Homo sapiens: one gene and its partners. The protein of the gene in region 7 interacts with the protein of the main gene of each other region in a pairwise test. Each region holds a gene or a part of one and is shown on either strand. Other genes may lie near its edges. The genes, in order: PAXIP1, ECT2, ZBTB44, TRIM39, ZKSCAN4, LIMD2 and PSMA6.

Evidence for each region.
Region 1: the proteins of PSMA6 (region 7) and PAXIP1 interact in a two-hybrid assay, tested with the Homo sapiens proteins (one large-scale study listed by BioGRID).
Region 2: the proteins of PSMA6 (region 7) and ECT2 interact in a two-hybrid assay, tested with the Homo sapiens proteins (one large-scale study listed by BioGRID).
Region 3: the proteins of PSMA6 (region 7) and ZBTB44 interact in binary tests that used the Homo sapiens proteins (3 or more experiments, as listed by UniProt).
Region 4: the proteins of PSMA6 (region 7) and TRIM39 interact in binary tests that used the Homo sapiens proteins (3 or more experiments, as listed by UniProt).
Region 5: the proteins of PSMA6 (region 7) and ZKSCAN4 interact in binary tests that used the Homo sapiens proteins (3 or more experiments, as listed by UniProt).
Region 6: the proteins of PSMA6 (region 7) and LIMD2 interact in binary tests that used the Homo sapiens proteins (3 or more experiments, as listed by UniProt).

What each region holds. Positions count from the first base shown.
Region 1 is NC_000007.14:154,947,625-154,951,124, reverse strand, and holds part of PAXIP1 (PAX-interacting protein 1), read left to right. Parts: intron 1-1,634; exon of another isoform or gene 1,635-1,827; intron 1,828-3,034; exon of another isoform or gene 3,035-3,121; coding exon 3,122-3,222; exon of another isoform or gene 3,223-3,227; intron 3,228-3,351; exon of another isoform or gene 3,352-3,432; intron 3,433-3,500.
Region 2 is NC_000003.12:172,806,226-172,809,725, forward strand, and holds part of ECT2 (protein ECT2), read left to right. Parts: intron 1-1,544; coding exon 1,545-1,699; intron 1,700-3,500. UniProt on the Homo sapiens protein: Guanine nucleotide exchange factor (GEF) that catalyzes the exchange of GDP for GTP. Promotes guanine nucleotide exchange on the Rho family members of small GTPases, like RHOA, RHOC, RAC1 and CDC42.
Region 3 is NC_000011.10:130,255,918-130,259,417, forward strand, and holds part of ZBTB44 (zinc finger and BTB domain-containing protein 44), read right to left. Parts: intron 1-3,500. UniProt on the Homo sapiens protein: May be involved in transcriptional regulation.
Region 4 is NC_000006.12:30,333,427-30,336,926, reverse strand, and holds part of TRIM39 (E3 ubiquitin-protein ligase TRIM39), read right to left. Parts: intron 1,183-3,500; coding exon 952-1,182; intron 1-951. Other genes in the region: TRIM39-RPP21 protein, read right to left, coding at 952-1,182.
Region 5 is NC_000006.12:28,245,770-28,249,269, forward strand, and holds part of ZKSCAN4 (zinc finger protein with KRAB and SCAN domains 4), read right to left. Parts: intron 2,381-3,500; coding exon 2,298-2,380; intron 1,324-2,297; coding exon 1,200-1,323; intron 207-1,199; coding exon 1-206. UniProt on the Homo sapiens protein: May be involved in the transcriptional activation of MDM2 and EP300 genes.
Region 6 is NC_000017.11:63,697,326-63,701,398, reverse strand, and holds the start of LIMD2 (LIM domain-containing protein 2), read left to right. Parts: upstream 1-1,273; 5' UTR 1,274-1,367; exon of another isoform or gene 1,368-1,596; intron 1,597-2,050; 5' UTR 2,051-2,100; coding exon 2,101-2,142; intron 2,143-2,329; coding exon 2,330-2,371; intron 2,372-2,460; coding exon 2,461-2,600; intron 2,601-2,687; coding exon 2,688-2,847; 3' UTR 2,848-4,073. UniProt on the Homo sapiens protein: Acts as an activator of the protein-kinase ILK, thereby regulating cell motility.
Region 7 is NC_000014.9:35,298,882-35,302,381, reverse strand, and holds part of PSMA6 (proteasome subunit alpha type-6), read right to left. Parts: intron 1-3,500. UniProt on the Homo sapiens protein: Component of the 20S core proteasome complex involved in the proteolytic degradation of most intracellular proteins. This complex plays numerous essential roles within the cell by associating with different regulatory particles.

The DNA of each region.
Region 1 (3,500 bases), on a different chromosome or scaffold from region 7:
AAAGTCCATAGTTACATTAGGGCTCACTCTTGGCCTTGAACAGTCATTGGGTTTTAACAAATGTGTAAGGACATGATTTTGCTTTACAGCGTCATATGGAGTTGTTCCACTGCCCTGAAAATCCTCTGTGCTCCACCCACTCATTCCTTCCTGCCTGCTGACCCCTGGCAACCACTGATCTTTTATTCTTTCTATAGTCTTGCCCTTTCCAGAATGTTACATATTGGGAATCATACAGTATATAGGATTTTCAGATTTGCTTCCTTTGCTTAGCAATATACGTCCCAGCTTCCTCCATGTCTTTTCATGGCTTCATAAAGCATTTCTTTTTAGCACTAAATAATATTCCATTGTCAGAATGTATCTGTTCAGCCCCTCACCTACACAAGGACATCTTAGCTGATTCTAAATTTTCGCAGTTAGCAGTAAAGCTGCTAAAACATCCATGTACAGGTTTTAGTGTGGACGTAAGTTTTCAACTCCTTTTGGTAAATCAACAAGGTTGCAATTGCTTGATCATATGGTAAGAGTATGTTTAGCTTTGTAAGAAACCGCCAGGCTGTCTTCTGAAGTGCCTGTGCCATTTTGCATTCCCACCTGCAGTGAATGGGAGCTCCTGTTGCTCCACATCCTCCTCAGCATATGCTGGTGTTAGTGCTCTGGGTTTTGGCCATTCTAATAGGTGAGGTCCAGGTTACTTCTTATTTCTTTCATGGATTGTGTCTTTGGTGTTGTATCTAAAAAGTCATTGCCAAACTCAAGGTCCCTTAGATTCTCTCCTGTGTTATCTTCTAGGAGTTTCATAGTTTTGCATTTTACATTTAGGTCTGTGTTCCATTTTTGGGTCAGTTTTTTTTAAAAGAGGGTAAAGTCTGTGTCCAGCTTCCTTTTATTGCATATGGATGTGCAGTTGTTCCAGCATCATTTGTTGAAAACACTCTTTTCTCCACCTGTTTTGGTAGGTGCATGTTTTTGGGATTTTATATTTATGTGTAACTTACATAAAATTTGAGACATCAATATTATAATCAATTTCTAGGATACTCATTTCTTTTGTACTTCCATGAAAAGTTTAATGTTCAGGTTGAGTCTTTACATTGCTACTACTAAGGTAACATAACCCTGTTTGAAAAAACCAAAATCTCAATGTCTCATCTGTGACAGGATCGTCTTAGCTGTATTACTGTATTTTTCAATATTACTTTCTTTTCTTTTTAAGACAGAGTCTCACCCAGTCTGTTGCTCAGGCTGGAGTAGAGTGGTGCCATTGGCTTACTACAACCTCTGCCTCCTGGGTTCAAGCCATTCTCCTGCCTCAGCCTCCCTAGTAGCTGGGACTGCAGGCGCCCACCACGACGACGCCTGGCTAAATTTTTTTGTATTTTTTAGTAGAGACAGGGTTTCACCATGTTGGCCAGGCTGGTCTTGAACTCCTGACCTCAAGAGATCCGCCCACCTCGGCCTCCCAAAGTGCTGGGATTATAGGCGTGAGCCACCGCGCCCGGTGGTGTTTTCTCTATCATAAACATTAACTATTCTTGGTGATCTCACACAAGTTCTTCAGAAGGCATATCAGCTTTGAAAGTAACACTTCAAATATACCATCTCATGTGTAACAGTACTTTTTTTGTTCCTTTTTTAATTCATCATTTTTTGTTTTTCCAAATTTTAGACATTCTTTTTCTCCTTTCACCTAAAAAGCAGCCTTTCTATCTGCTGGTTGACTCAGGGATTGATTTTGTATTTCTGGCCGTTGGTGAACAGATCCCTGCATTTCTGTCATGATGTGGTTGCTCCTGCCCAGCAGTCAGCAAACTGGTCCATACGCTGAAAATGGTTTTTACATTTTTTAAATATTGCTTAAAAAAGAGAAGAGGAATATGCAGGAGAAATAATACATAGCCCACAAATCCTAAAATATGTATCATCTTGTCAACCCCAGTTTGCCAATCCCAAATCACTTTTCCTTGTTTTCTGCTTTTGATGTATATATTATTGGGTTTGAGCTGCCTTATTATGCTGTATGGTTGGTAGGAAATGGCGGCGGAGGAGAAATGGTTTTCTGAATATGAGGCATATTTATAGGAAGATTGAAACATTTTGTGATCTTTACCTTTTGACACATTTCTTAAAATGTTGCTATGAAAACTGAAAATCTGTCAATTATTAATAATTGTCAGAAGTCTTTAAAAATTGATAAAACTATCCTTTATAAATTGCTGTATACTTTTATATACTTGAATGTGTGTTTGGTAAATCTTTAAAGTTTGGTAATTCACATAATTGATTATGAGCCAAATGACTCCAATGTCCTACAAGTCCTTGAGGAGTTAGTGTATATATATAACATATATATATATAATATACACTTGGATGGGATTATTTGAAGCTTGTCTTTCTAGGACTGGAGATTTTAACCTGAGATCTGCGGGCTTGGAAAGTTGGTGAACTTCCTAAAATAGTCGGGGGGTAAAGAGGGGAGGAGCAGCTATGGGAAGAGGGTTCATATTTTTCAGTAATTTTTTTTTTCTTTTTTTACATTTTTGTTGTTAAAAAAAAAAAAATTACTATTATTTTGAGACCAGATCTCACTTTGTTGCCCAGGCTGGGGTGCTGTGGTGCAATGATGGCTCACCACAGCCTCGAACTTCCCAGACTCAAGCGATCCTCCCACTTCAGTCCCCCGAGTAGCTGGGACTACAGGCACATGCCACCATGCCAAGCTGATTTTAAAATTTTTCTGTAGAGATGAAGTCTCACTGTGTTGCCCAGGCTGTTCTCGAACTCCTGGCATCAAGCAGCTTTCCTTCCCCGGCTTCCCAAAGTGCTGGAATTACAGGCATGAACCACCACACCCAGCCCGTTTTTTTCAAGAGTTTATGACCCCAAATGGTTAATTACCACTGATCTAGGAGAAAAAATACCTGTCTGTCTTTTTGGTCTGGCTGTTTTTAGAGGGAAGTAAATGAAATATAATGGTGACATTTAAATATCCGAAGGCTGTACAGGTAAATGTAGCTGTAATATTATGTACCTGAATATGGGCGAGAATTTTGTGGGTCACACTTGCCACACTTCACGTGTCCACACTTTTCAGAGTATGTGCTGTTCTGTTTTCCAGATGAGCAGAACTACATTCTCCGAGATGCTGAGGCAGAAGTACTTTTCTCTTTCAGCTTGGAAGAATCCTTAAAACGGGCACACGTTTCTCCACTCTTTAAGGTACACTTTAAGGGAAAAGTAAATCAGTCCAAGTAAGCATAACACACGGACCTGCTCAAGGGAACTACCAGGTGATTTGGTGGGAAGTGCGCCTCCAGGGGAGCTGGGCTCACCCTGCATCCCATTTACCTCTTGGCTTCCTTCTTGGACATTGCCACTGGAGGTCTTCCTCCTGTGAACCACAGCACATCTCTAGAGAACTTTTCTTTACTATAATGTTTAAAAATAAGTACACAAATTTAATAAATACATCTATGAGAAATAAGTTATTCAAAGAA
Region 2 (3,500 bases), on a different chromosome or scaffold from region 7:
ACCCCTCATCTTAACACTTTCACTGTTGGCCAACAGTTGCATTTTTAGGGCTATGTTTAAGGTACGGGTCAGGAATAGATGTGGGTGCAATAAATAAACTCAGAGTAACTGGTAGACTTGATATGGAGTCATATGTGTATTAAGGAATGTTTTACTCTAAACTTTGGTAGTGTTACAGAGCAGGTTCTCTGAAGGCCTGAAATTGCTGAAAATTTATACCTACCTACAACAGTGTCATCTGTTTAATTGACACCCAGTGGTGTATGTGCATGGCCATATTTTGGATGTTAGGCATATGTTTTTACAATATTTAGCTCTTTCCATTACTGATTCCTCTAATAATGAAAGGTTTCAGTTTGTGAGAAATTATTCTTTTTTTTTTTTTTTTCCTTTATAAGAAATGATTCTTTCTTTGTTTTTTGTGGGTTTTTTTTTTTTTTTTTTTGAGATGACGTCTTAGTCTGTCACCCAAGCTGGAGTGCAGTGGCGCAAACTTGGTTCACTGCAGCTCCCGCCAGGATTCTCCTGCCTCAGCCTCCTGAGTAGCTGGGATTACAGGCGTGTGTTGTCATGCCTGGCTAATTTTTTTGTATTTTTAGTAGAGACGGGGTTTCACCATGTTGGCCGGGCTGGTCTTGAACTCCTGACCTCAAGTGATCCACCCACTTCGGCCTCCCAAAGTGCTGGGATTACAGGTATGAGCCACTGCACCCCGCCAAGAAATGATTCTTAAAGAAAACTTGAACAGCAACTTCCTGCTCTTTTCACTTAGTTGACAAATTCTGGATTTATTAAAGGTTACATAGTATAGTTGTCCCTTGGTATCCACGGGGGACGGTTCCTGGACCTCCCTTGGTTACCAAAATCTGGGATGCTCAAGTCCTGGATGTAAAATTGCATAGTGTTTGCATGTAACCTATACACATCTTCCTATGTACTGTAAGTCATTTCTAGGTTACTTATAGTACCTACACAGTGTAAATGCTGTGTAAACAGTTGTTATACTATATTGTTTAGGGAATGATGACAAGAATAAAAAGTCTGTACATTTTCAATACAGATACAATCTGTTTTCTACTGTTTTTTTCTACTATTTTCGGTCAGCAGTTGATTGAATCCACAGATGCAGACCCACAGATACGGAAGGCTGACTATATATTTGTTTTAAAAATCTTCATTTTTGGATTTTAATTATGGCAGACTTTGTTTAAAATAGGTTGTATTTTAGCATCTTGATCGTGCAACTTTTGTAACACTTAATATTTTTATCATAGAAAATATTAAATGACATGGATAATACTGTTTACTTAATGTCATTAACTTATCATCATCATTAGTTCCTTACGTGGTATACTATATTGTGTTTTCAGTACTTCAACTTAATATGGTGATGTTCTTTGTCTTATTAAAAATAGGACAAGGAAAGTGGAGAAGTGATAGTTCATTTCATTGGAATTTCATTGCTCTGAGGGAACTAAACTTGCATACATCTGTCATTTTCCAAGGAGTGACACTTAATGTTTATGGTTATTCTGGAACCCTAGATTGCCATAATGCTTTTGCCTTGCTTGTGAGGCCACCAACAGAGCAGGCAAATGTGCTACTCAGTTTCCAGATGACATCAGATGAACTTCCAAAAGAAAACTGGCTAAAGATGCTGTGTCGACATGTAGCTAACACCATTTGTAAAGCAGATGCTGTAAGTTCTTAAAACAGTATTATAATGAAAGTTTAAATTTCATGACAGTGCATTCAGACTAAACCTGTACATTTTTAATGACTTGTTTATTATGAATGGAGAGTTTTAGTTTTGTGTATATTAAAAAAACTGATGTAATAAGTTGTTTTAGAAAATATTTTATATAGTGTAGGTACACAAAATATTATTTGAGTTCTTGGCTTACATAAGGTAGGCCCTCATAGTCTTATAGCCCCTGTGGCTCTGATTCAGTGAAGATTTTGGGACTTCTTGTAATGTACCCTGTGATTTTTCATTGATACTCTTAGACATGGCTAAAAATTAGAGAGTATTTAGAGATGGGGTTTCACTGTGTTGCCCAGGCTGGTCTTGAACTCTTGAGCTCAGGCAGTCTGCCCACCTTGGCCTCCCAAAATGCTAGGATTACAGGCGTGAGCCACCGTGCCTGGCCAAAAAAAAAAAAAAATCTTATTGAAAGCAAGTTGAAAATGAAAGTTGCCAATCTATTTTTCTCATGTGAACCTCTTAAAAATGAAATGCTATCATAAATATATAATTATCATTATACTATACAGATTAAAGTGAAAATAGATGAGAGAATCAAAATAGGGAAGTTAAATGACTTGCCTGAAATCAGGTATCCCTGGATGAAATCCAGGTCCCTAAAAGATAATTTGATTTCTTCCTCTCTATATATGAGAGAGACACATGTGATAGACAGATATAGACCTCTTACTCTTTGCACAAATGACATAGATTGAAGAGAATATATGGATATAATAGATGACCCTTTTCGGTACAATGGTACTGTAACTGAGATTGCATTGGGTGTTTCTGTGGGAATGAAACATGTAATTACAGTTAAGTGTGAAACCTTGGAAGACATTTAGGTTTAATGTGGTTTATAAAGTAAGTATTCATTGATGAAAACCTCCTTCCAAAGTATTTAGAACAATAATCAGACTTTTTGTTTGTGTGTGTGTGTGTTTAGATTTCTATGGACCAATAATATGTTCTTATAAATAAAAAATTGTTGCACAAAAGATTCAGAGAGGGAAATACAATGCTAACAAATACAATAGAATGCTAGCTAGAAAAATGATGGAGACCACTTTTGTTATAAATCTTTCAAAACTGCTCATTGTAAGGTTTTTTTTTGTAGGTATCCATCCACTTTTTCTAGGTATCCATATATAAAATGGTTTTATCTGTAGAAGTTCCTTAATGCAGAAATTACTCCTGCTCTTATCAGAATGTCAGACTAGATAGTTTATAGAGTCCTTTCCAAACTTATAACCCTAATACTGAAATGAAACATTAACAGAAAATTTTTCTTATAATCTATTGAATTACTAGCCACATGATGGCTAATAGTACTAGAACTGAAATATAATAACATATGGAAGAAATTCATAAGTAAAATTAGCCACAAGATGGCAGCAAACGTTTAACTATGTTCTGACTTATCCTTACACTACAAAATTCTTTCAATCTATTGAAATTTTGTTCTTAAGAAATACGTTTGTAAATTCAGGTACTCGGTGACTTTGGTTGAGCCCTTTCCTGCGTTTAAAGTTCTACATATAGTAAATGTTTATAAAGCCCTGAGAATTTTTCCTGTGAAGATAATGTGTGTGTATATCTACACACACACACACACACACACACACACACGCACACACACACGTGAAAGATGTAAAAAGATATAAAAATCTCTGATTCTTTGAATTAGTAATTTTTGTTTTTGGTACCCTGTATATATATAATTTTTTGGTACCCTAAGTAACCTGAGCTTTCTTAA
Region 3 (3,500 bases), on a different chromosome or scaffold from region 7:
AAAACACCCCTTCATGCTATAAACTCTCCTGAAATAGCCTACCAACCAAAAAAAGCCCAGCACCAGACAGATTCACCAGACAGATTCACAGCTGAATTCTACCAAAGGTACGAAGAGAAGCTGGTACCATTCCTAACAACAGAAAAAGAGGGACTCCTCCCTAACTCATTTTATGAGGTCAGCAACATCCTGATTCCAAAACCTGGCAGAGGCACAACACAAAAAAAGAAAATACCAGGCCAATATACCTGATGAACATTGATGTGAAAGTCCTCAATAAAATACTGACAAACTGAATCCAGCAGAATATCAAAAAGCTTATCCACCAGGATCGAGTTGGCTTCATCCCTGGAACGCAAGGCTGGTTCAACACACGCAGATCAATAAACGTAATCCATCACGTAAAACAGAACCAATGACAAAAACCACGATTATCTCAATAGACGCAGAAAAGGCCTTCAATAAAATTCAACACCCTGGCTGGGCGTGGTGGCTCACGCCTGTAATCCCAGCATTTTGGGACGCCGAGGCAGGCGGATCACGAGGTCAAGAGATCGAGACCATCCTGGCCAACATGGTGAAATCCCATCTCTACTAAAAATACAAAAATTAGCTGGGTGTGGTGGCATGCGTCTGTAGTCCCAGCTACTCAGGAGGCTGAGGCAGAAGAATTGCTTGAATGAGCTGAGATCACACCACTGCACTCCAGCCTGGTGACAGAGTGAGACTCCGTCTCAAAAATAAATAAATAAATAAAAATTAAAAATAAAAATTCAACACCCCTTCATGCTAAAAACTCTGAATAAACTAGGTATTGATGGAACATATCTCAAAATATTAAGAGCTATTTATGACAAATCCATAGACAGTATCATACCGAATGAGTAAAAGCAGAAAGCATTCCCTTTGAAAACCGGCACAAGACAAGGATGCTCTCTCTCACCACCCCTATTCAACACAGTACTGGAAGTTCTGGCCAGAGCAATCAGGCAAGAGAAAGAAAGAGTATTCAAATAGGAAGAGAGGAAGTCAAGGGTATTCAAATAAGAAGAGAGAAGGTCAAATTGTCTCTGTTTGCAGATGACATAATTGTATATTTAGAAAACCCCACTGTCTCTGCCCCAAAACTCAAGCTGATAAACAACTTCAGCAAAGTCTCGGGATACAAAATCAATGTGCAAAAATCACAAGCGTTCCTATACACCAGTAATAGACAAGCAGAGAGCCAAATCATGAGTGAACTTCCATTCATAATTGCTACAAAGAAAATAAAATACCCAAAAACACAACTTGCATGTTCAGCACATGCATCCCAGATCTTAAAAAAAAAAAAAAAAAAAAAGAAAAAGTACATCTTAATCCTTGCTACCAATGTATGTGACCTTATTTGGAAATAGGGTCTTAGCAGATGTAATCAAGTTAAGATGAGGTCATGCTGGATTAGGGTGGGACCTGAATCCAATGACTGGTGTCCTTTTAGGGAGAGAGAGATTTGAAGCCAGTGGCAAAACAGAGAGACAGGGAAGGTCATGTGAAGACGAACGCATATACTAAAGCACAATATCATATACTGGAGCTACAAGCCAAAGAACACCAAGGATTGTGGGCAGCTGCCACAGGCTGGAAGAGACAAGGAAGGATTCTTCCCTACAATCTTCAAAGAGAGAAAGATCCTTCAAAGGGAACTAACACCTGTCGTTCAGATTTCTGGCCTCTGACTATGAGAGAATAAATTTTTTTTAAACCATTCAGTTTGCGGTACTTTGTTGCAGCAGCCCAGGGAAACTCACACAGAGGGTAAAAGCACAAGAAACTAACAAAGTTAATATGGTCTTCCCGGTTCTCCAATATTTTGGACAAATCTTTATTATTCACTAGTGGCTTTTCTTCTATCCCTTCCCAAACCTGAATATAGGTATTCCCCAAGGTATCCCCTTGGTTTTGGCTCTTCTGTTTTTCCTATTGAGATTGAATTTGCCACTACTAGTAGAAAAGTCCCAAGTTGGGAATCTCACTTATCTTTTCTACTGCTTTTGAAATGACACTGCTTGATCATCATCCAAGCACAATTTACACAGAAGTGACCTTGATAATTTACTCTCAAAACTGGATTCCCACCACCTTCCACTGATTTTCATACGGCACTAACTACATTTAATAGATGCTAAAATGCTATTGATTCATATGATTGCCATTATTCTCTATAGCACTAAGGAAGAAAAAAGCAACTGTAGAAGACTGCCAACTGTAAGACATATCTGGATTCAGAAATAACAAAATATGAAAAATTGTGACTTAGAATCAATGGAATATAATAAAGTGTTACCATTATTTCCTAGTCATCAGAGTACTTTAACCTCTCCTGTTCTTTCAATATACATATTCAGTATCATCAGGTACTAAGTCTTTCTTTACAAAGTCTTGTAATATCTATTTTCTTTCACATGGTTTTAAGTCTTCATTCACACCAAGATAAGTGCACTGCAATTGGTCTCTGAGACTGTCTCTGTAAAACCAAACTCACTGCATGTCAATAACAGTTTTCCTAAAATATCTGCATGTTTTTGTTTTTATCCCTTTAATGTAGACTCCTTACTACCTACCACTAAGATAAAATCCAAGCTTACTTGGCCTACTTGTGGCAGACACTGCTAGTTGCATACTCAATATCCATTTTGCTCTAATTTTGTTCAAGGCATTTAGGTACCCAACTAATATACATTATCTTCCCAGATTCCCTTGCAGCTAGGAAAGACTATGTGACACAGACTAGCAGAAGTTTTTTAGGGATTTCTGAGAACATAGGTGCTTTCTTGATACAAAGCATTGCCCCTTTCTAGAATACAAAGCTGAAGATGAAATGAGCATCTTATGGATGAAACCAACAAAGTAAAGATGGCAGTTTATAAATATACAAGTTGCCTAGGCCACTGATTATATTGCAGATTCACTGTACCAGCCCTGGACTTTTATTCCTGAACACTTTGTGATAAAAAATCACAAGCATTCCTGTGCACCAGTAACAGAGAGCCAAATCACGAGTGAACTCCCATTCACAATTACTACAAAGAGAATAAAATACCTAGGAATATAACTTACAAGGGATGTGAAAGACCTCTTCAAGAACTACAAACCACTGCTCAAGAAAATAAGAGAGGACACAAATAAATGGGAAGACATTCCATGCTCATGGATAGGAAGAATCAATATCGTGAAAATGGCCATATTGCCCAAAGTAATTTATAGATTCAGTGCTATCCCCATCAAGTTACCATTGACTTTCTTCACGGAATTGGAAAAAACTCCTTTAAATTTCATATGGAAATTTAATGAGATACCATCTCACACCAGTTAGAATGGTGATCATTAAAAAGTCTGGAAACAACAGATGCTGTTGAGGATGTGGAGAAATAGGAAATGCTTTTACACTGTTGGTGGGACTGTAAACTAGTTCAACCATTGTGGAAGACAGTGTGGCGATTCCTCATGAATCTAGAAAC
Region 4 (3,500 bases), on a different chromosome or scaffold from region 7:
CAAGTCTTAATAAATGTATTTCATAAAGCTGCTATAAATAGTGATTTTTCTGATAGATCTAGGCAAAGTAAATTGAAGGCTTTCTGGTAAGGATTCACCATTCTAGATGCCATTAAGAACATTTGTGATTTGTGAAAGGAAGCCAAAATATCAATATTAACAGGCATTTAGAAGAAGTCTATTCCAACCCTTATGGATGACTTTTAGGGGTTCAAGACTCCCATGTTGTAAGTAACTGCAAATGTGGGTTTTCAAAGATTTTCAAAGAAGTTCTACTGGTGAGTAAAATGCTATTAAACAGCATCACATGCTCAGAGATATCTTTCATAAAAGGAAGAGTTGAAAGTAAACTTCGTCGTTGTCTTATTTTAAGAAATTACCACAGTCACCCCAATCTTCAGCAACCACCACCTCGATCAGTCAATACTAACACAAGACCCTCCACCAGCAAAAATATGATTCCACTAGGAAACCCAACAATTAATGTGACTTGCTTTATCAAGATACTCGCTTTATTGAAGTGGTATGGAACTGAACCCACAATATCTCTGAGGTATGCCTGTATCCTTTAAACTATGTTTCTGTCCTTTTTCAGCAGTACATAAATCAAATTTCAGGACTTAAAAGTAATGGTAACTGCATTTACAAAATTTTTAATGCATAGTTTTTCACTAACTCAGGCTAGACTTCCCTCCTTTCAAAAGAATGAATCTTTTCTTTGGAACAGATTAAGCACATAATTGCTGACCAGAGATAAGAACACAAAAATGGTTAGAAGGGGATGGGAGAAATCACTTTTCCGTAGCAAAGACCCTTTGAGTACACCTGGCAGAAAGAACTGGATTTAGAGAAGGAGAGCAGAAGAATGAGTATCCCAGGCTGACAAATCCCAGGCTACGCAAAGCTACGCTGCACTCAGCCTGAGGGGCTATGCAGGGGCAAAGGTCGAACCTTAAGCATCTCGAAGCCTGACTGTAAGCACTTGCCCTCCACCTCGGCAGCCAAGTGGGCCAGGTCCCGGCGCTTGTCCCCAAGGTGAGCAGCATTTTCTCGGAGTCGCTGCAGAATGTCCTGTTCCTCTTCTTCCAGTCGTGAAAGCAACACCTGCTGCTCTTCATCCAGCCGCCTATGAAGCTCTTCAAACTCCCTCAAGATCTGCTGTCGGCGACTTTCCACTAGTCTCTGAGAAGAGAGGGAAGATGTTGTATCAGCAGGGTCAGTGTGGTATAAGGAAGCCTTTCTCTCACCCACCATATGTATGAATTAACACAGACTTCCAGTTTCATTGAAAATGGTTTAACAAAGGCTGGGTGTGGTGACACATGACTGTAATCCCAGGACTTTGGGAGGCCGAGGGAGGTGGATTGCTTGGGATGAGAAGTTTGAGACCAGCCTAGGTAACATGGTGAAACCCCAACTCTACAAAAAATACAAAAAATTAGCTGAGTCTGGTGGTGCATGCCTGTAGTCCCAGCTACTGGAGAGGCTGAGGTGGGATGATGGCTTGAGCAAAGAAGGCAGAGGTTGGAGTAAGCTGAAATTGTTGCACCATTGCACTCCAGCTTGGGCAACAGATCGAGATGAAAGACAGACAGACAGGAAAGAAAGACAGAAAGACAAAGACAGAAAGAAAAGAAAGAAAGAAAATGAGAGAAAATGGTTTAACAGAACACTCATTTTTTATTCCATTGGAATTTCCTTCTGTAAAGAATGGCTCCATCACTATCACCCCCCTACTGATGACTTGGTAGTGAAGACCACTGCGGATATATATATTTGTTTTAATTTAAGATAAAGAACTCAATAATATGATGACATTAACTATTACAGATATCAGAGATATCTGTGTTATTATCAACTGTAAAGTTCTAGTTAATTCAATCTGTCGAGAAAAGGAAAGTATAGGCTCAGCATGGTGGCTCATGCCTGTAAACTTAGTGCTTAGGAGGCCCAGGTGAGAGGATCACTTGAGGCCAAGACCAACCTAGGAAACATAGTGAGACCTTGTTTCAACTAAAAAGAAAAAAAAATTAGTCGGGCATGGCAATGCACATCTGCAGTCCTAGCTACTCAAAAAGAATCAAGAGGATGGATGGCCTGAACACTGGAGTTTGAGTTAGTGTGCTGTGATCACTACTGCCCTCCAGCCTGGGTGAGTGAGATTCTGTCTCAAAACAAGCAAACAAAAAACAACGAAACAAAAAGGAAAGTACAAATAATAAAAAGTTAAAAATAAGATTGTCATCCTTTGCATATTGCAACACATGCACCAGATAAAAACCAGAGAACTGGGAAAGTGTAAGAATCAGTAAGAGTTATATGGGTTATTATAAAATATACATATGTAGATTTCAGGGCTGAACTTGTTAAATTGTTTCAAGTCACTTCAGAGAACTGGCAATTCCTACCCCAGGAACAGGTTACAGAAGTTTGTTAGTAATTTAGTTTCTTGAAATTTGAAACATGCTTTCTTTAAGCCAGCACACAGACTTAAGCCTCTAACATTCCTGAAATTTGATAATATAGGACTCAAACACCAGCCATAACACTTTCTGAGAATTATCAGCACATCCTCTCTTCTGCATCTCCACTACAACAAATAGTGATCTCCCTAAAGAATTCCCCAAGCATCATGTGACTGATGATGAAGCAAAGTGAGAAGCAGAGACTGGGACTCTAGAAGGAAGTGGATAGGGAATGAAAGGCAGGCTTGAGGGTGGAGAGAGAGTGGGGATGCAAAGCCAGGATGGGCCTGACAAGCGTGGCATTTGTGGATTCAAGCTAGTTCCTGGCAGAGGCTGACTAGCTCTTCTAGTTTAGGGCCACTTGCTGCTTCACTTTCCACCACTGCCTTCTCAGTGTACATCTGAACAAAATATATTCTCACATTTGCCCTCAATAAAACACAGCCTTTGTGTGTGTGTGTTTGCACATGTGTGTGCATGCATGTGTGTTTGTTTAGGTATGGGTGTAAGTTTAACATTCATGACTGTGATAAATAGGAAGCAAAAAGGCCCTTCCTCTTATAAACCGGTAATCTTTTCTCTTTTTTTCACTCTATATTTTAGGGCAGTGGTTCTTGATGAAGCTGTTAACACACTCTGAGGATATTTTGGAAATAGGCACATCTTCTTGTTTTCCATGGTTGGGGAAGTTCCTGACAATGACGCAAGCACTCCTCCAATGTGTGAGACAATCCGGCATAGTGAACTGACCTGCAACATTTTCTAATGTTCTGCTGGATATTCAAAAACACAGGCCTGGGCGGCCAGGCACGGTGGCTCACGCCTGTAATCCCAGCACTTTGGGAGGCCGAGGTGGGCAGATCACAAGGTCAGGAGATCGAGACCATCCTGGATAACACGGTGAAACCCTGTCTCTACTAAAAATAGAAAAAAAAAATCAGCTGGGTGTGGTGGTGGGCGCCTGTAGTCCCAGGTACTTGGGAGGCTGAGGCAGGAGAATGGCATGAACCCGGGAGGCAGAGCTTGCAGTGAGCC
Region 5 (3,500 bases), on a different chromosome or scaffold from region 7:
ACTCTTTCCACATTCATGGCAATAATGTCGCCTACTCCCTATGGCATTTTTCTGCTTTCTTTGTAACCTGCCCTCCTGTTCACCAGCTTCTGCATGTGTAGGAATCTGGGCAATGTCTTCCCTCAGGTGGCATATCTTCCCATGCTCCTTTTCTGGAAGCTTCTTGACTGGAGGCAAGTCCCTGCTCTTAGTCTGTATTTCACCACCTGAAACAACAAATGGCCGGCAACTGTGGGTTATGCCCTGCCATGGGAGGAAAGCTCTGTGATGAGTACTAGGGAGACAAGAATTACAGAAGTCTATATATGCCCAGGATGAGGATTTAAGTGCTAGAATAAGAATGGGAATAAAAAGGGAGAACAGGGGTGCTGGGGAGGAAGGAGGCCTGAGAATGAGAATGGGGCCATTGGAAGGGTACAAACTGGGAGTGGAGGGAAAATGGTGAGGACCCAGGACTATGCAGGGGACATATGTGATGGTTCTAAGCTCTAAGAATAGTAAGCAGGGCCATGCACCTAGGATTAGATTTTGAAAGGGGTGAGCAGAGGGTGACAGTAACAGGGCAAGTGGAAGGATTTCTGAAGCACCTGCAAGAAATGGCAAAAGCAAAGAAACTGGTGACTGGTGATCGATCAATGACATGGACCGTCATCTCTAACTGTGCCCAGGCAGAGGCAAAGTTCTCAAACAGAACTGGCATTGGCGCTAGGAGTTCTGAGGTAGAGCCCCCACTGTGCCACAAATAAGCTATGAGATTTCAAACAAGTGAGGTAATCTACGCCTCTGCACCCTCACCCCTAAGGTCAGGGTCTGTAGTTGATGTCTAAGGTTGCTTCTGGCTCTCACGTTCTGAATCCATGGCCCATTTCCTGAAGAGGCCCCCCCCTCCCCGCAGCTTTCCTCTTCAGTCAGGGATAGGAACAAGAGGACATCAACATTTACTGAGCATCTCCTATGAGCCAGACCTGTACAAGGAGTTGTATCAATTTCACCCCACTTATCCTAACTAGAACACTGGCATGACAGAGGAGAAAGCAAGGTCAGAAGGAGTAAGGAGCTAGTAGTCAGTAACAGGCTTTCAGGAATGGTGATTCTGAATCCAAACATAATGGGGGCTTAACAGCTTCTAACAGCCCAATAGGTTCTAATACGCAAAGAATGCCAAGAAATCTTAAGACAAATTAGTGTCTCAGTCTTACCAAGGGAGACCAGGCTGCTATGGTTCTCCTGCTTTTCATCTCTGTAGAGGTTCACCTGAGATGAATCCAGCTGTGTCCACCCAGGAGTGAGGGTCAGGGCCACATCTTCCATTTTCAGCAAACCCTAAAACAATAGGTAGTCCTAACTAGCTCCTCTTGCCCAAAATTACCCCCAAAGCAAAGAATGAACATCCCCTTTAAAGAGGCTCTTTAAAAAGGAGCAAGTGTGGCACACCTACACCAATTTAGCTTTATCTCTAATAACATCTTAATCAAGAAAACCTGCCAAATGAAAGAAATATTACACACATTTTAGGATAAGTACTTTCATATAAATATCTAAACAGTCCAGAAAGTAAAAAGGTTTGGAAGACAAGGGTCAATGCAGCAAAAGGAATGGAACTATGTCCAAAATTTTCAAAAGATTTGCAGTATGCTTTGGCAAAGTGAGAGTAGGGGTTCATTTACATTAATAGCTTCAAAAATACAATGAAATCTAGAACTGAAGTGAGAAAAATTAGGGGAAAAAAAGGATACTACACAGCCTCAAACACTGAGATCTTCAAGCAGGACAGGAAAGGCTGAGTAGTAAATTGAAATCTAGGTTGAGAAAAGATTGTTCATATTGTAATATAAATAACTTCAAGATAACTATGCCTTATCTGACCTTTCAAGTATAAGTTCTTTGAGGGCAAGGGCCAGGCCTTTATATCCCTCACCAACAGCACAGCTTATTGTATCTTAAAAAGCAAAACAGAATGACCATCCCAACAAAACCTTCAGTTTGCTTTTGCGGAACTGCCCTTGTTGAAGGAGAAAAATCACATTGAAGAAGAGGCTGACCGAAGAAATGTAGGAGGAAAGATCTGAGAAGTACAAAGAAAACTCCAAGGTTGTTGTGAAACAGGAAAGTCCTCTTAGGTGGGCACCAAAATGAAGGTGGACAATTATATGCAACTTTGGGATAGATGAGAAAACTCAAATTCATGTAGATCTAGGATAGGGGTGGGGTAGGACTGGGGAGGGAGGAACTTAATGCGGAGCCCAACAGTAGTGAAAGGTATGGGGCGCTGGGGAGGGAGAGGAGCTCCAGCTCACCTGGGACCCTGGAGTGAGCCTGGAAGCTACCATTGCATCTTCTCTGCAGCACCCTCCCTGGGCAAGCCCAGGAACCTGGAGAACTAAGAAAGAAAGAAGCTCTGGATGAGAACTACCCTAGTATTCAGCCTCCCCACCTTGCAAAATCCAAGTTCAAAAACTGGGGCAGTAAGTTCTTGCCAATAAGTTTATACAGAATGTGTTCCTTTCAAAAATGCCTGATTCCCACCAGCTCCAGCCCTAGGGCCGAAAGAAGTCTGGTGCACTCTGCAGATATACAAAAACCACGTGCAGAATCGTTGGTAGGAGTGGTGAAATGAATGCAACATAACAAAGCTTTCCATTTGAAGACCTTTGGGTTTTGAATTTTGCTAGGAGATGGGGAGTAAAGAGGGTTTTTTGTTTTTGTTTTGTTTTGGTTAAAATGTCTTTAGTAGATATTAGGATGCTTTCCACTTCAGGTATGAAAAACTAGGAGGAGGCCAGGCACAGTGGCTCATCCCTGTAATCGCAGCACTTTGGGAGGCTGAGACAGGTGGGTTGCCTGAGTTCCGGAATTCGAGACCATCCTGGGCAACCTGGAGAAACCTGTCTGAACCAAAATTACAAAAAATTAGCAGGTGTAGTGGCATGGGCCTGTGCTCCCAGCTACTCAGGAGGCTGAGGTGGGAGGATTGCTTGAGCCTGGGAGACAGGTTGCAGTGAGACAAGGTCTCACCACTGCACTCCAGCCTGGATAACAGAGTGAGACCCCCATCTCAAAAAAAAAAAAAAAAAAGAAAAAAGAAAAAGAAAAACTAGGAGGAGTCAAATAAGGCTGGGTCCAGAAAGGAGGCAATGGAAGACTGGAAGACTGCTTAAATAGAACTTGCTCAGACTCAGAAGCAGAAGAAACCTTAGGTTTCCCTACAATAAGTCAATTTGCAAGGGGCAGAAAATAAGTTGGTTTAGGCCAGAAACTCTGCTGAGAAATAAAGATTGCATGTTGGATGGCATGTCCAAGTGTTGTATGTCTTAGGAATCGGCCCAGATGTTCACAGCAGATGAGGAACAGCATGGAACACACAGCTGCTTCCTATTAAGTGATTTTCACTCTTCTAGTCACAGGCTTTACAGGGTTTAGATTTACACTCTTCTATTTGCAGCAGTCCTACTATCTCTGGAATGTTCTGGCTGGCTTTACAAATTCTGCCTTATTTTCTT
Region 6 (4,073 bases), on a different chromosome or scaffold from region 7:
AGAGAACAGAAGGCTGGAGAGGAGACGCGGAGCCGGTCCGTGGAGTCCGCCAGCCTGGGAAACAGCTGGTCGCTGGGGAAGCTGCAGCCTCCCTGCTCCCCTGCCAGGCGTCGGGCGAGAGCTGTTCTGTTCCCTGACAAGCGCGTGGGCCGCCAGTGCTATTCCTGCCACAGTGTGGGAAGGCGCTGGGCTAAGGGCTGTGCTTCCCGGAGCTGCTTCTAGCCTGATTTCCGGCCAAGCCACGCAGTCCCTGGTGCCCGGGAAGGCGCCGGCCTCGCCGCCGCTCCAAAGCGAGTGGCCGTCTCTCGCCGGCTGTGCCTCCGGCCTGCTGTGCGGCTGCAGGGAGGGAGCAGCTCTGCGGCCCAAGCTCTGTCACCTCAGCTCTCTGGGCCGCGGCTCCCACGTGAGAAATGAGGTGCGCTTGTTGGAGAGGGGGCCCCCGTTGCTGCCCACAGAATTCCGCCCCAGAAACGCTTGAGTACGTGGAGCCTCGGGGGACGGGTGCTCCGGGAACCACGCATACCGGCCTCCCCAGCCCGTCGCAGGGTTGCAGAGGCGCCGAGGGCTGGGGGGGCTGCCGGGGCTGCCGGGCCCTCGTGCAGGCTCCTCCCCGCAGCCTCGCGGCCGGGCCTGGAGACCGCGTGCCCGGACGCCGCCGCCAGCCTCGTGGGCCGCAAAGGGGCGGGGGCGGCCCCTGGCGGCGGGAGGACTCGGCCGCCCGAGGGACCCCGGGCCAGGCTCCGGGGTCGCCCCGGCTGGGTCTCTGCGGCCCCACAGCTCTGGGCGGGGATGGGGGCGCCGGCGCCTACGCGCGAGGCCAACCGGGGGAAACCGAGGCAGTGAATGGCCCAGGCCCCGCCCGGTTATCCCGGAGCCAGGCCGGGAGCGCCCAGTGTCCCGCGACCGCAGCCGCCGCAGCCTGAACTCGTCCCCTCCCAGTAGGATGCGGAGCGCGGCCCTTCCATCCTGTCCCTGCCACCGTTGCTTCCCCACGCCGGGCCGCCGTCGGGATGGGCAGACGGCGCGGCCGGTACCCGAGGCCTGCGAGCGCGAGGCCCGCGGGGCGCTGCGGAGCCGGGAGCGCGGAGCCGGGGCGGGGGACAGACAAAGGCGGGGACGGCGGCGAGGGGAAGACAAAGCGCGGAGGGGGGTCGGCGGCGGCGCCGGGGCCCCGAAGGCGGCTCCGGGCGCGGCGGAGCCAATGGGCGGGCGCGGGGCGGGGGCCGGCGGGGGCGGTGCAGCGATAAGGCGGTGGCGGCGGCGGTGGCTCGGGGACCACTGGTAGCGGCAGCAGCTCGCGCCCGCGCCCTCCTCGTACCCGTGCGCCCCCGGAGACCGATCCCGCCCCGCGGCCCAGGCCGGGCCTGGTGAGAGCCGCGGGGGGAGGGGCCGCGTCCGGCTCCGGAACCGGGAGAGGCGCCGAGGGGTGTGGGGTGAGGGCCGCCCGTGGGGTCCCGGCGAGTCTGCGAGCCGCTCTCGCCCGGGGCGCACAGGCTCGAGTCCTCGTTTCAGGGCCGGCCCCCGGCTGGGCGGAGCCGAGACCCGCTGGCGGGGCTCGCGGCGTCGGGGTCTGGGGTCCGGTCCTCGCGGGGCCAGGTCGGGGGCCGAGGGGCGGGGCGGGCGGGGACCTCGGGCGCTGTCCAGGGGCTGCGCAGCCTAGGCCTGGACGCCCGGGCGCGGCGCAGGGCAGCGAGGGCCGGGGTCAGGTCGGGGCAGCGGCTTCTCATCGCGGCCCCGCCGGCCCCGACCTCCCCTCACCCCAAGCGGTCCCAGCCCGCGGGACGCACACGGCGGCTGCGCGGGAGCCCCCGGCCCCTCCGCTCCCGCTAACTTTGTTCTTCCGAGGGACGGTGCCACTCGGGACCCCGGCCCCTGGGGAGCAGGGGTGGGGGAGGTGGGTGAGGGGCGGAAGTGGCAAGACCAAGAGCAACAGGAAATGACTTAGGGAAAGTCCCAACCGCAATCCCCCCAGCCCCTGCCTGTCAACACCCCCCACCCTGCAGGCTGGGGCCGGGCTGGCGGGGCCCTCCCGACTGACTTCCCCTTGCAGAACCCAGCGGGTGCCGCTTCTCCACCCGAGGCTTCCACCTCCAACGAGCCATGTTCCAGGCTGCAGGAGCCGCCCAGGCCACCCCCTCTCATGTAAGTGCCCGGCTGGGTGGGAGGGCCCCCCGGACAGGAGCCTGGCCTGGGGTGAAGGGGAGAGGCATCAGAGTTTGCCGGCCCCCTTTGTGCCCTGCGGCGCGCCCCTGGGCCTTGGGCTGATGGCTGCAGCCCTGATCCAGGGCCTCCCGGAGCTGCCCCTGCCCTGACCGCCCCTCTCCCTCAGGACGCCAAAGGCGGCGGCAGCAGCACGGTGCAGCGCTCCAAGGTAGGGGCCTGGGGCCGGGTGTGCGGGAGGAGGGGTGTGAGGGAGCGGGATGAGCACTGGGGCAGCACCTGGCTGAGCTTCCCGCACAGTCCTTCAGCCTGCGGGCCCAGGTGAAGGAGACCTGCGCCGCCTGCCAGAAGACCGTGTACCCCATGGAGCGGCTGGTGGCCGACAAGCTCATTTTCCACAACTCTTGCTTCTGCTGCAAGCACTGTCACACCAAGCTCAGGTGCGCCCCTGCCCTGCCCGCCCCCGCCTCGCCTGCCAACCCAGCCCCGACCTGACCTGACCTGACGCCGTTGTTTGGCTTCTGCAGCCTGGGCAGCTACGCCGCGCTGCACGGGGAGTTCTACTGCAAACCCCACTTCCAGCAGCTGTTTAAGAGCAAAGGCAACTACGACGAGGGGTTTGGCCGCAAGCAGCACAAGGAGCTCTGGGCCCACAAGGAGGTGGACCCCGGCACCAAGACGGCCTGAGGCCTCTGTAACCTTCCACCCCCTCTGCGGAAGGCCTGGAGCCGGCAGGGGGAAGGTGGGAAGGAGGTCGAGCTGGGCTTGCGTGGGGGCCAGGTGGGAAGGGGATGAGGCTTGCTCAGGCGTAGGGGACCAGGGCAGGGCTCTGCTCCAGGACTCCTTCCTTCTTCCTTCTCCCGCAGCCGGTGAGGGTTTGGAAACCAGGATTGGGGTCTGCCCACCACCCTGCTTCCTGCTTCGTTCAGCCTCCCTCCCCACCTCACCCCAGGACCCCCTGGGAGGCCCCCAAGCCCAGCTCCCCTATCTAGGTGCCTTTTCTCCAGCAAGGAGTCAGCATGCCCCCCTCAGGGTCCCAAGCTCCCTCACTGCCACCGGAGACTGTGTGGCCCCCACGTCTCCCCATCTACCTCTACCCTTAACCTGTTTCTGAGCCACGGAGACAGGGAGGAAGGAGCGCGACAGTGCCACCTGTTGGGCATCATAAATGCCCCTGCAGCCCATGGGGGAGGAGATGGGGAAGTGGAGCCACCCTGCCTCTGCAGGGCAAGGCAGGGCCTGCCCCAGTGGGGCTTGGGACCATCTCGAACCACCAGCGTGGAGAAGCAGAAGCAAAAGCACTCGCCAGGCTGCAGCCTCAGGCACTGGCAGGGGCTGGTGCGGCCCCACTCCCCTCCCCCGCTCCCATTTGTGCCCATCCTGTTGTGACCAACCCCGTTTTAAACATGTTTCAATAGATCCAGATTCTCTATTGTGTGGCCTGCTGGGGGATCTGTCACAGGAAGGGTGCAGACTCACCATGGGGCGGGCATGGGGGGACAGGGCCAGCCCCGACTACCTCGGCCCTGATGGGGGCAGGGAGCTAGAAGTGGGTGTCAGTTCCCTGACACACCATTGAGAAATGGGAGGGCTCCTCTTCACAGCGAGGGCTTCATGCTGTCACACCCACAGTGGTTTTGGAACTGAAACTCCACCTCACCCCTCAGTTCTGGGTTGGTTCAGACCCACCAACTTACCATATGCACCCCATTGTGAAGAGGCCTGAGAGCGGGAGGGCCAGGCTGCCAGTGGGTGATGGCGCCTGTCCTCGCTGCACTTCAGTGCCTGGGGTGCAAGCTGCCGCGTTCCCTGGCTGGTTCCAGCTGTCTAGCTCCCTCCCTTCTTCCCAGCCCTTTGACCTGGAAGTAAGTTAGCGAAGAATGGCGGTAACCAGCAGACCCAGCAAGTGCTGC
Region 7 (3,500 bases):
CTAAATTTGTAGTGATTCTGGCTGTGTGTGATGGCTCATGCTTGTAATCCCACTGCTTTGGGAGGCTGAATGGGGAGGATCGCTTGAGCCCAGAAGTTTAAGACCAGCCTGGACAACATGGCCAGAAATCAAGAAACAGTAACAGACAACAAGAGAAAAACCAGCTAAGTCAAAAACTGGTTCTTTGAGCCAATAAAATCATTAACCCTCTGGTAGGTTGGTAAATGCATCCCCAAAATATATCTATGTCCTAGTCCCTGGAACCTGTGAATGTTACCTTATATGGCAAAAGCAGGCAGAGGGTCTTTAGAGATGTGATTTTTTCCTAGAAAAAAAAAAATTCTAGTAACACTTGATCTTCAATCCCACATAGCAACTGGCCACAAAGAAAAAAAAAATCACCTAAGCTGAGCAGGTGTTTTGCAGTTTTCCACAGGTCCCACCATTTCCTGTTATCTTTCACTCAGCCTGTTTTACTCACTGGCATTACTTATCTGGTCTGTGTAAGCATTTGTGTCTGTCATCCCTGAACTAAATAAATGAATACATGCTTATTGCTTAAATAATGCAAAAGGTAAAAGCCACAAAAGAGTATCTTCCCTACCACATAAACTTTTGTCTCACAAAATAAAAAACATTTTACATATAAAAAATGCTTCTCAACAGAGAATGCACCTGTGAATTTGCCAGGATTCATTAAGGGGGCCCTCGTTCTTTATATAGACCAGTGCTGTCCAACAGAAATTTCTGTGATGCTGGCAATGTTCTATATTTGCAATGTCCAATATGATAGTCACTAGTCATATGTGGCTATTGAGCACATAAAATGTGGCTAGTGTAACTGAGCAACTGGATTTTAAAGTTTTTTTTTTTTTGAGATGGAGTCTCACTCTGTCACTCAGGCTGGTGTGCAGTGGAGCAATCTTGGCTCGCCGCAACCTCTGCCTCCCAGGTTCAAGCGATTCTCCTGCCTCAGCTTCCTGAGTAGCTGGGATTACAGGCACACACCACCACACCCAGCTAGTTTTTCTGTATTTTTAGTAGAGACGGGGTTTTACCATGTTGGCCAGGCTGGTCTCAAACTCCTGACCTCAAGTGATCCACCCGCCTCGGCCTCCCAAAGTGCTGGGATTATAGGTGTGAACCACTGCGCTCAGCCAAATTTAAAGTTCTTTGTTAAGAATATCATTCCTACTCTTCCTCTCCTACTTCTCTGAACTTCCCTTCTCAATCTTCTTCACTGCTTTCATCTCTTCAGCCAGCTCCTGAAATACTGGTATTTCCCAGAATTCTATTATTTTCTCCATCCCTGGATGATTTTACCCTAAACCAGAGATTTAGCTATAACCTAGATAATCACTACTAATCTGTCATCTCTAGCTCTGGACTTATAATTACAAATGTCTATTTCTTCAAATACCTATGCCTATTAGCCACAGACATGTCTAAAAATAAACTCTTCCTCTTTATAAACCTGCTTTTCTTACAGTCCTTATTTCATAATTGTATTACTAACCACTCAATTTTTCAAGCTACAAACCTGGGTTATCACTCTTGACTCTAACCTCCTGCCCTTTCCCAAGAAATGTCCATTCTTATACCTAGGATTTGCTTTAACGTACTCTAGAAGAGCGGGGAAAGTGCGTGGGAAAGGGAGAAAACAAGACTGACAAAATATTGACATCAGATGAAGCTGTGTGATGGGTACATGAAGGTCACTGTACTAGTCTATCTACATTTGTCTAAAGTATTCTATAATAAAAATGTGAAAAATAAGCTCAAGAGACCCCTCCACCCTTTCTCTCTTATTACCTTAATTCACTCATTAGGGTTTATATGAATTACTGATACTGAGCAAACCTCTTCTAATTGTTCTTCCTGCCACCAGTCCCCTTTTTATTTTCTTTTCTGAGACAAGGTCTCACTCTGTTGTCTAGGCTGGAGTGCAGTGGTGTGATCGTAGCTCACTGCAACCTGAAACTTTCGGCTCAAGCAATCCTCCTACCTCAGCCTCCAGAGTATGTGGGACAACAGGTGTGTACTACCACACCTGGCTAATTTCATTTTATATATTCTGCAGAGACAAGGTCTTGTTATTTTGTCCAGGCTAGTTTCGAACTCCTGGCCTCAAGCAATCCTCCTGCCTTAGCCTCCCAAAGTGTTGGAATTCCAGGTGTGAACCATCAGTCCCTTTCTAATCCCATTTCTACACTCAACTCTCCTATTATTTTACTTAATTACCTCGCCATTCTTAAAGACCCCTGCTAGCTCTGTTCAAAACACATGGAAAAAAGTCCAAACTCTAGCATGGTACTCAAGCCCCTTCAAAATATTGCTATAATTTACTCTTTCAGTTGTTACTGTCTATACTGCATTCACACTGACTGATCTATGCACTGGTCCCCCAAATTTCCTTATTTAATCTTCATCTGGGCCAATTCATCTCTGAGAAGCCTTTCCCGGCTCTCCTAGGCAGTTAGTCACTTCCTGTAATACCTTTTTTATACTATTTAGTACTCATCAAGCTGCACTGTAATTTCAGTAAAGGCTTGTATAAATGAATCCCCATTTTAACACTACCACCATGAAATGTTTTATAATAATTTCCAGAAAAATGGAAACTGCCAGAGCAAAGAATTTAGACAACTCAACACCTAAAGAGTATCTTTTAAAGAAACACTGGCAGGGTAAACAGTAGTATCATGGTTTAGAGCAGATACGGACAACCTATGGTATATGAAGGCCAATTAAGAAAAAAGAGGCTGGGCATGGTGGCTCACGCCTGTAATCCCAGCACTTTGGGAGGCCGAGGCGGGTGGATCACTTGAGGTCAGGAGTTCAAGACCAGCCTAACCAACATAGTGAAACACTGCCTCTATTAAAAATACAAAAATTAGCCAGGTGTGGTGGCAGGCGCCTGTAATCCCAGCTATTGGGGTGCTGAGGCAGGAGAATCGCTTGAACCCAGGAGACAGAGGTCGCAGCAAGCCGAGATTGCACCACTACACTCCAGTCTGGGTGACAGGGTGAGACTCCATCTCAAAAAAAAAAAAAGAGGCTGGGCACTGCGGCGGCTCACACCTATAATCCCAGCACTTTGGGAATGGAGGCAGGAGGATCAGTTGAGCCCAGGAGTTCAAGACCAGCCTGGGAAACACCAAGATGTCATCTCTACTAAAAATAAAAAGTTATCTGAGCATGGTGGTGTATACCTGTACTCCCAGCTACTTGAGAAGCTGAGGCAGGAGAATTTCTTGAGTGCAAGAGTTTGAGGCTACAGTGAGCTATGATTACACCACTGCACTCCAGCCTGGGCGACAGAGTGAGACCCTGTCTCAAAAAATAAATAGCTGGACGCAGTGACTCACGCCTATAATACCAGTACTTCGGGAGGCCGAGGCAGGTGGATCACTTGAGGTCAGGAGTTTGAGACCAGCCTGGCCAACATGGTGAAACTCTGTCTGTACTAAAAATGCAAAAATTAGCCAGGTATGGTGGTG